2 separate regions of the Homo sapiens genome follow, and region 1 is linked to region 2. Evidence: fine-mapped expression QTL. A gene starts in region 2. The other region holds a variant in brackets. All regions are shown on one strand. Distances are from middle to middle. Region 1 overlaps PTPRR (protein tyrosine phosphatase receptor type R). Region 2 holds the start of PTPRB (protein tyrosine phosphatase receptor type B).

Evidence for each region. PIP is the estimated chance that this variant, and not a neighbour inherited with it, causes the effect.
Region 1: its variant is fine-mapped to the expression of PTPRB in blood mononuclear cells (TOPMed, PIP above 0.99).

The regions. Positions count from the first base shown.
Region 1 is chr12:70,663,506-70,666,431 of GRCh38, reverse strand. The region is part of intron 10 of PTPRR (protein tyrosine phosphatase receptor type R); the gene reads left to right. Among named protein-coding and RNA genes, the nearest start is that of PTPRB, 28 kb to the right of the region's middle. The variant C/A (reference allele first, on the strand shown) is at 1,834.
Region 2 is chr12:70,635,678-70,638,603 of GRCh38, reverse strand. It overlaps PTPRB (protein tyrosine phosphatase receptor type B), which reads left to right and starts at 1,175. Exons shown (of 34, transcript NM_001109754.4): 1 at 1,175-1,263; 2 at 2,538-2,926. The coding sequence starts at 1,209. It overlaps PTPRR (protein tyrosine phosphatase receptor type R), which reads left to right. Exons shown (of 14, transcript NM_002849.4): 14 at 1-525.

The DNA of each region.
Region 1 (2,926 bases), 28 kb before region 2:
TAAAAACAACTTGAGGAACACAGAGATCAAAAGATGGTAACAGAAGTACTGAGCTCAGTAGGAGAGTGAACCAAGACTATGCAAGGTTGCATGTGCCTCAACATATTTGACAGAGGGAACAGGTCATTGGTCAATGCTGTGGTTAAGTAGCATTGGTTAAGAGTCAGTGTGGAAATCAAAGATGGAAAGTTTCATTCATAAAGTGATATTTTCTTGGAAAATTCTAGCCCCCCAAGGCAATTTTCCCCTACCAAAACACCTGAGCCTTCATGTCCTCATCTGAAAAATAATTTAAATAATAATAATACCTGCTACCCACCCTACCTACTTCAAAGGATTGTGGAAGGGGCTAAATGATATGATGTTGGTGAAGGTACTTAAATCTCTGAGCCTATGTCAGTAATATTCCATCGGAGCACCAGGAATAAAAGTAGCTATAGTAATAATAATTTTAGACAACCTGACCCATTCTATCCCTCTCATGTATTAATATAACCCAAATGAAGCTAAGTATGAAGATTTTATTTACTTAGAGCCACATTCTATGTGATGATACAGATCTTTAGCTTATAGAGCAATATCTCTGATATTTAAATATATAGAAACTAAAAAGAAAATAACTTAAAAATAGGTTTTTTTTTTTCAGGCAACTAAACAACTAGCTAGACCGCCTCCTCACATAGCCCTAACTTGGTGGGGGCCAGAAGGAGAATCAAGGGAAGAAAAAAGATCACAAAAATATGAGCTGGCGGCCGGGCGCAGTGGCTCACGCCTATAATCCCAGGACTTTGGGAGGCCAAGGTGGGCAGATCACCTGAGGTCAGGAGTTCAAGACCAGTCTGGCCAACATGGTGAAACCCCGTCTCTACTAAAAATACAAAAATTAGCTGGGCGTGATGGTGCACACCTGTAATCTCAGCTACTTGGGAGGCTGAGGCGGGAGAATCGCTTGAACCCGGGAGGTGGAGGTTGCAGTAAGCTGACATTGTGCCACTGCACTCCAACCTGAGTGATAGAATGAGACTCCATCACAAAAAAAAAAAAAAAAAAAAAAAAAAAAAAAAAAAGAATTTGCATTGCTTTGTGTTACATCCTACTTTTGCTGTAAACCACCAGTTACAAAGCACTGGTTAATGTCCAGAATCTTTTCAGTCAGAGTTTGATAATAACTTGTTTGCACAAGAGACACTGTCCTCTGGAAACCTATTTTTTTCTTCCAAATTATGGATTCTTAGAATTAATAGATAATTTTACTGAAAGGATAAGCCTAGCTAGCAAAAGAATAGTGATGATTTGGGGTTATATTCTGCTAAATAGCATGCTATTTTGAATCACCTACAATTAGTGTGGTTTCACAGTATTATCTGTAAGGCAGCATTTTTCTTCCCTGCCTTTTCTGCCTCTTTTATCTCATTGTTAGCACCACAATAAAGAAACCCTAAAAAGCTGTACAGGAAAATAATTTGAACATGAACTTGTACTCTTAGAAACAACTGCATTTGCAGCTGTCCCCCACCTCATATTCAAAAGTACCCACACTTATCTGGTCTCTTTTTCTGTCATCTAAATGAGGGAAAAATGTATTCAGTGTGTAAAAATAAGCTATTGTATCTCAGAAAGGAGATGGGATGCTAATTAAGGGTTGTTTGAATGAACAAGTCACATTGCATTGTCTACTGGGAGCTGACTGCCAATTGCTTTTTTGGTAACGAGTCAAAAAAAACATTCAAGAGGGCCCCCGGCAAGCTTGGGAGAGAAGCGAGCAGCATTTCCATTTATCAAGTAGGTGCAGAAGCCTGTGCAAGTATTAAGAGTCAGGGTGCAGGCGGCAAG[C/A]TCCTGCTTTGCAGCTTTTCTTACTGGTTTTGAGAGCCACCTTCCTAAAGAGGGCCCTGCTGCTCAGGTCTGATCGTGGACAATGGGGCACGTACGCCAGACTGCTGGACTACTGAATGAATGCCTCTTTCTTTGTTCAATACCTTTTCCAAGATTCTTTGTCATTCTTCTTGGACTCATCGGGAGGCATGGGTTTTAAGATACACAGTAGCTCGGGTCTTACAGCGAAATAATTGATGCTTCATTGAAAGAAACCAGGCAAATTGGTTTGTATGATTACCTTTAACAAAGTGGGAAAATTTTAGACATTTGGCAACTCATAGATTTCGAGAGAAATGAGTTGCTCTACTTTAAAAAGGTTTCTTCTCTTAATGTTAACATTAAGTCAGCCAGAGTAAGTCTTTTGGTCTGATAGCCTGAGAGTCTCAGGTGGCATGTAAATAAAGCTGAAACAATTTACTTCATTTAGAAAAAGGGTCAAAATGTAGAGGATGTAAATGTGTTTTTATTGTAATGGATGAAAGAAACTGATTCTGCTAGGTGAAGTGACTTCCTTCGCTGTGCTAGCTTGTAGAGTAGTGGTACTTAGCATAATAGAGCCCTGGAGGTGTGTTTCTGATACTTTGTGTCACTTTTCCTTCAGTTCTATAATTTTGTGAGTCTTTTGCTGCTCTTTTAAATCTATAAGTATTTAAATTTTTATCAAGTGTATTCATATGCCTTTGACAAAGATGTGAAGAAACAAGTGTCCTGGGTATTAAAAGGTTCTGATTGAAGGCAACAAATGAAAGAATTTCTATGTAAATGTATGTATGGTTGGGAGAAAATAAGTGCTATTTAAACATTTCTAAAATTAACATTGCTTCCAAGAGCACTCAAAATAAAACATAAACATTTGTCATTTTACATTCTTTATCATCAAAATTTGTGGTAAAAAATAGTTATTTTACAGTTGTTTAAAAAGCAAAATGAGATTATATGTATGCTTGAATCTCATTTTGCAATTTTTATTTAATAATGATAACTGACTATAATAATACCAAAATAATATTTAATGCATGAAGATCTAATCACTTTGGGCCAAAAACCTATC
Region 2 (2,926 bases):
AATGTGTCTTGATAATATTACCTATTAAATGTGTATTTATAGTCCCTCCTATCAAACAATTACAGAGCACAATGATTGTCATTGGGTATATATGTATTTACTCTCTATTATTGGGCATAAAGGTGGCTTCTGCTCCAGAACTCTATCCACTGTATTTCCACATCGTGAGTCATTTTACTTTAAAAGGGAAAAACAAATTTGTAGCAACTCTGAAGTATCAAGAGTTTTAACTACTTGTCTCTCTTTTGCTAAGAAGGGATTTTTGAATATGCTATCTACCTGGAATCTCTCTCTCAACAAAAGGTATATGCCTTCAGGAATGATATAATCTGTCCCATTTTCGAGGCTCCTTATAAGGACATTTCCATGTATGTCCTTACATTTCTGAAAGCTTTCAATCTTCAAGAGACAAAAAAAATTAAAATAACTACCCTCAGCAAACACTAGCTGTTCTGCTCATATATGAATTTTTAATGCAGCAATGTTGACTTTGTTTCATACTGCCAATAAACTCTTAATACTAAATACTGAGTAAAGCATATTCTTTTTTTTTTTTCTATTTGGAAAGACGCCATCCTCTGTTTGGGGAAGACCAAAGTAGATAATGTGATGGGTTTAATTTTAGTGTCTGCATCTCCCCAGTGAAGATGACGATCTCAAAATGTAATATTGTCATCACTTGGGAGATAATGATCTAGAAGTGCCATCATTATGTGGTTTTCCTCAATAGACTCGCAGCATATCATTATACAAACAGTACATGTTTATGTCTTTATATCACTTGTCATAGACCCTCATCAATTACATGGCTTATGTTTATTCAGCAGAATCACATCACCTGAAGAGATGTAATGTTTCAGGAACATTCAATTATCTGAGATTTCAATTCCTTTCTTTCTTCTTGAGGTTAAGAAGCAGTCACATGCCAAAGGAAAGGTAGGTGAGGTCTTAACGAGATTTACTCTGCTCTTGAAGGCTGGAATATTTTCTACATTAAAAAAAAGAGGTAATCATAATCCCTTCTTTCTAAGGAAACAGACAAAAGGACACTGGTGTAAAACTTCCCCAAACAATTCAATAGGAGGAAGTGCTCGTCACTGACTTTTCCCCCCACCATGAAGGCACATTTCCTTCCTAGTCTTTGCTTCTCTTATCTGGGAGAATTTTTTTTTTCCCCAAGCGAAGCATGAACAGTTGCTAAGTGGAAAATGGAGGCTGAATTTTACATGGTGATTCTTACCTGCTTGATCTTCAGGAACTCAGGTGAGTGGGTCTGCCTCAGTGTCCTGAGGCATTTCTTCAAGATCTAGCCAAGGAGTCCCTGGTCTTTGAAGTGTCTGAAATAAGGTAGAAGGGGCCAGGTCTCCATGGCAGTTTAGCCAAAGACGATGAAAAGCAGGAATAAAAGGAGCCAGCTATGCCCATACTGTTGAGATTTCTCTCCAAAAGAAAATAAATGCTCTCCTCTCATCCTCCAAATGCTTCAGGCAGCCCCTGAAATGATACATTTAGAGCAGAGCGTAAAGAACCCCGAGGAAAAGTTTGTATTATTATATAACAGTCTGTGGCTTTCCCCAAGCCTTTTTCCGACCCGGTTATAGTTTTATTTTCTTTTGTGTTGAAGAAAGAAAATTGAAGGAATATGATTAAAGGGGGTGAGGAAATGTAGTGTGTTTTATTTGGAAGTTGTCATTTGGGAGGGCTGAACATTTTCATGAGCGAGCTGGGCAATTTAAGTAAAACCTCATTGAAAATGGTTTCTGAGCCAGAGTATCTTGCTCTTTAATACTGATGTTTAGCAATTTGATGTTTAATTTTCTTACACTGGCACATGATGATTTTTAGAAAATCTATTCGTATTTGAGAGAAAACTGTAGATATTGTCATAAAATAGAGAAATGCTCCTCTCCACGACTAAAGGAAATTTAGTTTGTGATAATCAATACTTTCATTGGCTGCAATTAGCTAGGAGGTTGTGCTTGGAGAAGTGGGAAAATTTGTTTTATTTTTTGATAAATGTATGCAATTTTAAAAAATTGTTATTCAAACTATGAAATTTGTATATAAATACTGCAATGTGAATTTAAAGACTGGAAAAGGGGGTGCTTTTTTAAGGTAAGGGAGGAAGCTTATATCGAATATGTCAAATGGTTAAAAAGGGAGCTGAGCATTTCATAACTTCAGCATATCTAACTAATTGGGCTAAAATATACTATATACTTTGGATGGTTTTGTTTCTTTCCAAGCTTCCTTTCATTTTCCAATAAGAGGTGTGCTTTTTTCCCCTAAAGCATGTGAAAATTAAAAAAAAAAAAAAGATGGGGAGTTAAGTGTAACATATTGACATTTTATATCGTCAGCTTTGGAATTTTAAATCACATGTGTTAAATATGAGAATGTTCACTTGAAATGATAGAAATAACAAAATATAAGTAAAACTAGTGATTTTATTTAGCTCATTTGTGGGTGGGTTCTTCCGTTTTCTAATGGGCCTCATAATTTGCTACATAGTGCTTTATGAGCTTTTCATCTTCCAGAAGGGTTTCAGATTGTCCATGTCCAGAAACAACAGTGTCTTTTCAAAAATGAGAAAGTGGTCGTGGGCTCATGCAACAGGACCATCCAGAACCAGCAGTGGATGTGGACTGAGGATGAAAAGCTCCTTCATGTTAAATCTGCACTGTGCTTGGCCATCTCCAACTCTTCCCGCGGCCCCTCCCGCTCAGCCATCTTGGACCGCTGTTCCCAGGCACCCCGATGGACCTGCTATGATCAGGAAGGCTTCCTTGAGGTGGAAAATGCCTCTCTCTTTCTCCAGAAACAAGGCTCCAGAGTAGTGGTCAAGAAGGCCAGGAAATACCTCCATAGCTGGATGAAAATAGATGTCAACAAGGAGGGAAAACTGGTCAATGAAAGCCTCTGTTTA